Linked DNA regions of Homo sapiens: region 1 is linked to region 2. Evidence: fine-mapped expression QTL. Tissue or cell type: monocytes after interferon gamma. Region 2 holds a variant in brackets; the other region holds the start of a gene. All regions are shown on one strand. Distances are between the middles of the regions.

Region 1 (2,500 bases), 74 kb after region 2:
CCATCTACCATTACTCAAGCCACCACCTGTGTTGTTTAGCTCTGCACTTAACCTTCCCCCACTGTAGAGGACAATGGTCTTAGTGCATACAAGCTGATTGCAAATATTATACTGCTTCAAATCCAAAGTAATGTGTGAGATGGACATGAAAACTTCAAAATTGTTCCCCCACCCCCCCAACCCCCGCAGAACACACGGACAAATGTGGTTAGCAGGGTCTATCTTGTTCTCTGATCACTAACTTCAACAAAGAGGAAGTCCAAAGAGTGCAACTGCCAATGGTAAAAGGAACCCTTTACAAGAAAAAGGAAAGGAAAGGAAACTTCCTTTGTGCATAACAGTATAGCCATTTTTAACAATGGAAAACAGCCTGGGCTACTACTTCTCATGCTTCAACTTAGGAAACGTTTTTAGGTGAAGACTGATTCTGGACCAAAACTTCTTGAACATCCTAAGCTGACTCAGTTGTCCCTTTTCTTTGATTCTGACTTCCCACCCTCCATCATGCTCCTGCTCAGCTAAATCTTTCCAGCCTTACCTGTTGTTCTAACCACAGACCTAGGCTCTCTGCCTTCTGCCTCACTCTTATCCATCCCATACTGACTCCTCTCCTTCCTAAGGCAAAAAAAAAAAAAAAAAGACTTCTTCAAATCTACTCTCCCGTAGTAGATCTGCCTCCCACTACACTCTCATAAACTCAAGTTGAAGCTTCTGTCACAGATTCACAGATTCCTTCAACCTTCTGGGGCATGGAATGTAGCCTGCGCCACCAGCCAGCTCAGTCTCTTCCTGTTTTGGATTCTCCTCTCAGGCCCGCATCTTCCCAGCATCTTCTCTCCTCCCGTGCCCGCTCAGACCATCCTCTAAATGTCCTCAATTCTCAGACACACATCTCCGCCCCTTTCAGGCTCACGGCCCCTCAGAAGTCCTCTCCTCTCAGATCCACTGCTCTTTCTTCCTCTGATGCCTTTGCTTCCCAGACCCACAACGCCCCTCAGACCCACGCGCCCCTCGACCGCCCTCCCCCGTCAGACCTACACCAGTCACCTGGACCCGCCCCAGACCCTGGCTCCCCTCGGGCCACCTCCCTCCTCAGACCCATGCCCCCTTCAGGCCACCTCCCTCCTCAGACTCTCGCCCGCCTCGGACCACCTCACTCCCTCAGACCCACGCCCCCCTCGGCCGCCCTCCTCTCTCAGACCCACACCCCTTACCTGGACCCCCCTCTGACCTAGGCCCCCCTCAGACCACCTCTCCCCTCAGACCCACGCCCCTCACCTGGACCCGCCTCGCGGAGCCGATCTGCGTCTGCTGCACGAAGGGGTTCGGCACCGGCGGCGGGAAGAAGGACGCCTGACGGGGCACCATGGGCGGCCGCAGCCCCACGTTCCCGACGCCGGCACCTGGCACTGTGGCCGCCACTTCCGCCGCCTGGGCGCACCGGCTCATAGTTGAGCCGGGCGTAGAACCCGGCCGAAGCGATCTACGCGGGCGCTGCAGCCAAAACTGAGCCGAAGACCTACTAGAGTCCCAGCCTAGGGCGACGCTGGGGAGCCTCTGCGCAGGCGCTGAAGTTACTTAGACGCCTGCTGCTGCCGCCCTGCCCCTTCGGCTGTGACACGCCCCAGGCTCTGGCCACACCCCCTCAGGCATCTGGCTCCACCCCCTTGGTAATATAGTCCATCCCCTCGGAGGGGAATGTTTTCCTTCCGAGCCAAGACCCTGAAGGGTACCCCAGGATCCCTAACATTCCACAGCGAGACACTAGGCAGAGTTCCCTGCTTTAGGGTCGGACGGACCTGGATTTTCAATCCCTTTTACTGGGCCTGTGACGCTGGCCAAATCACTATCTCTATGAACCTCGGTTGCCTTCCGTAAAATGCAGATAAATGTATTCTCAGATAATCCTAACCTGGATCCAGTAATGCCATTGAGCAACCACTTCCCCTGGGCTGTTCCATTAAGTGAGCTAATATTAATACACCCATGATGGCACTAGGAGTGGAATTTGTTTCACTCAAAACATAATGGACTGACAGGGGAGAGATGGTTCTCCAGAGGAAAACTGAGCTACTATTACCAGAAAAGGCAAAAATTACAGTTGCCCTCCACGCTAGATGAGGAACCTGACCCAGAAAAGGGAAATGTATTGGGCTGTGGCTCCCTTTCACACTGAGGAAGTTCAAGCCTGTTTGGACCTATGTGGGTGCTCGTGGGGGTGGGAGGGCAGGGGTTTGTCCCATTATCTGAGGACAGTTGATCAACCCTGAGTGGCTGAGAGTTAAAGGAAGGAGATGATAATCAACTCATCCCAACTGATCAACTCTTCTCACAGCAGGTAGGAAGGCCAGGATGAAAATCTGAGTCTGAGCCCTGGGGTTCTCCAAAGTTACCCTCTGAATGTCAGAATCTTCCAGCCCTACCACATAGATGTGTGGCCTTGAGTCAGTCACTTAACCTGAGTTTGCTTCCTTGTCTAGGAATGGGAGATTCATTCTAA
Region 2 (2,737 bases):
TTAGTATTACATACATTCATTGCATATGACAGACACTCTGATAAAAATGTACTGTTCTAATTACTTAATTGTTTTGGCTCATTTAACACCTTGTTTAAATAGCTTTAAGACATATAAGAGGCAAATAATTATATATACTTAAGGATAAAATTTTCAGATATTTATCCAAACACACATTTACCCATTAAATTAGAACACTAACTGCTTAATATGTAAAACTAGTTTGAAATCATGACTCTTGATTAAATACATACTTCAACATCTCTCATGAGACTTCCCAACTTCAAAAATGACTTTAAAAAATTAGCTTGGGGGTGAATCACCAATACATTCAGAAACACGGCCAAAACAAGGAGTTTTATTTCAAAGACTGAATTCAGAAAATGAACCAACTATTTTTGTACATTATATTAATAAATTGGTTCTTTGTTGAAAACCTCAAACATGAATGATATTAGCAATATGCATGTGTGAGACCCATTAAAAATGACAATTCAAAAAAATTACTGCTTAACCTAAAGGAAAAATGTTACTGTTGGATTCCTGCCTGGGGCTTAAATTGTGGTCTTGCATTAATAAAGTACGTTTGTTGATTCCCTAGCTTTGGGTGATACCTTGAAACCTTTTGTGTTTTCTGGGAGATATTTCACACAAGTTCTAAAATTTGAGAGTCCACTTAACAAAATAAAATTCCCACTTACATGATAATATATTAATTCTAATATTATATAAATAGAACAAATCTGATTCATTTATAGGGCAAGTGCTACATTCTGAACTATCTAACTCAAATTAAATTCAACTCTGTGGCAAACAATTCATTTTCTTATTAGGCAATCAATGTTACCTTCAATAAGGCAATTCCCATTTACCTTCTGGCCATAGCAGTTGTCTTAAAACCAAGTTCTAAACCTGTAGTTCATGTAAAAGGATATGATTTCCTTAGCAAGTAGTTAAGAAAATCTACAATAGGCCGGGAACGGTGGCTCACACCTGTAATCCCAGCACTTTGGGAGGCTGAGGTGGGTGGATCACCTGAGGTCAGGAGTTCGAAACCAGCCTGGCCAACATGGCAAAACCACATGGCTACTAAAAATACAAAAATTAGTCGGGTGTGGTGGTGGGCACCTGTAATCCCAACTACTCGGGAGTCTGAGGTACGAGAATCACTTGAACCCAGGAGGCAGAGGTTGCAGTGAGCTGAGATTGCACCACTGCACTCCAGCCTGGGTGACAGAGCAAGACTCCATCTCAAAAAACAAAACAAAACAAAAAACTACAATAGAGATGTATGTCAAAGAGAATATAAGTTCTTAAGAAGCTGCGTCTAATTAGTGAAGCTCTCCCTTCCCATATTCAGTGATCCAAGAAACTGAAATTTAAATGGAAAAATGAATCTGTAAAGTTATAGATGTCAAATTCTCAGATTCTTCATTGTTATTTCCCAAGTGGAAAAGGATTAGAAATAATAGAATATTATTGATTTTTAGAGGAAAGTAGATTAAAAAGTGTTTACATTTTTAAAACTTTATACAGTGTTGCTCAATGCTCACCAATAGACCATTGCATTCATTTGTATATGCAAATTAAACTGGAAAATCCATAAAAACATATGTATCACCAGTAAATGAATCAGTAAAGTACAATATAACACAAAAGAAAACGAAATATTGCTTGATTTTTTCCAATAAAAGCAAGGTTAATAAAAACATTTTTAGTAAGAAAATCTATCATTTTT[G/A]TTTTAAAAATCTTTCAATTTTAAACATCATTACCAACACATTAAAAGTATTATCAATAAGTGCCTTTACAATTTCAAGCAAAAGCTACTGTGTTTTCCTTATTGGAAATACTGCTTTCAGTCATCTTTTTTGTCTGAGGTACTCTCTTCATGCTTTTCAGGGCTGACTTTATTACTGGCGGTGGAGGGGGTTGTCTGGACTTCTTTTGGTAATGAAAACACATGGCACGTCTGGAGGTCTAGGTATGTTGTAAATATCTTAGCATATTCTGGATGCTTTAAGGCAAAACTTTTAAATTCCTCTAGAAGAGAAAGAAAAAAAATCCAATAAGTTGGGGTGAATCTTCTTTTGGCATGATGCAGATTAATAAATGACTCTAATAATGCAATTATTACAAAATTCTACTACCCAACACACAAACATTGCTGATGAAAATATAAGTTGTACAACCACTTTGGGAGATAGTTTTTCCATTATCTAGTCAAGTTGAAGATATACATACTCTTTGACCCATTAATTCTACTCTGAGGTATATATCCTAGAGAAATTTGTGCATATTGTGCTCTGAGAGACATGTATGAGAATGTTCACAGCAACATTATTTATAATAGATAAAAAATAAAAACAACTTGGATGTCCATCAACAGTAGAAATGCATAAATAAATTGTGTCATACTCATGGAACATAAGGCCATATGGCAATGAAAATGAATAAACAGCTATGTAGAAACAATGTGGATTAATCTTAAAGCCATAATGTTTAATGAAAAAAGCAAGATATAAAGTAACACATAATTGTATGAGTCTATTTATATAAAGCCCAAAAACTTAGACAAAACTAAAATTTAATATTTAAAGGTACATACTTTAGGGGTGAACTGTTAAAGTAAAATAAAGCAAGGCAGAGATTCCTTTTTAAGTCAGGATAACAACCCCCTTCTTTAAGAGAGAGGTAGGGGTGTGGTTGGGAAAGGGCACACAGGGGTTTCTGGAGTTGT

Which allele goes with the higher level. Alleles are on the strand shown, and positions count from the first base shown. SD is a standard deviation of normalised expression in the study named.
For the expression in monocytes after interferon gamma of the gene that starts at base 1,559 in region 1, G is the low allele of the variant in region 2 and A is the other (large effect, 1.3 SD a copy in Fairfax 2014).

What was found. PIP is the estimated chance that this variant, and not a neighbour inherited with it, causes the effect.
Region 1: it holds the start of LPCAT2, and the variant in region 2 is fine-mapped to the expression of LPCAT2 in monocytes after interferon gamma (Fairfax 2014, PIP 0.95). The same link has a PIP of 0.9 or more in monocytes.

Annotation. Positions count from the first base shown.
Region 1 is chr16:55,508,131-55,510,630 of GRCh38, reverse strand. It overlaps LPCAT2 (lysophosphatidylcholine acyltransferase 2), which reads right to left and starts at 1,559. Exons shown (of 14, transcript NM_017839.5): 1 at 1,279-1,559. The coding sequence starts at 1,449.
Region 2 is chr16:55,582,217-55,584,953 of GRCh38, reverse strand. LPCAT2 (lysophosphatidylcholine acyltransferase 2) reads right to left here. Exons shown (of 14, transcript NM_017839.5): 14 at 1-2,040. The coding sequence ends at 1,856. Among named protein-coding and RNA genes, the nearest start is that of CAPNS2, 17 kb to the right of the region's middle. The variant G/A (reference allele first, on the strand shown) is at 1,739.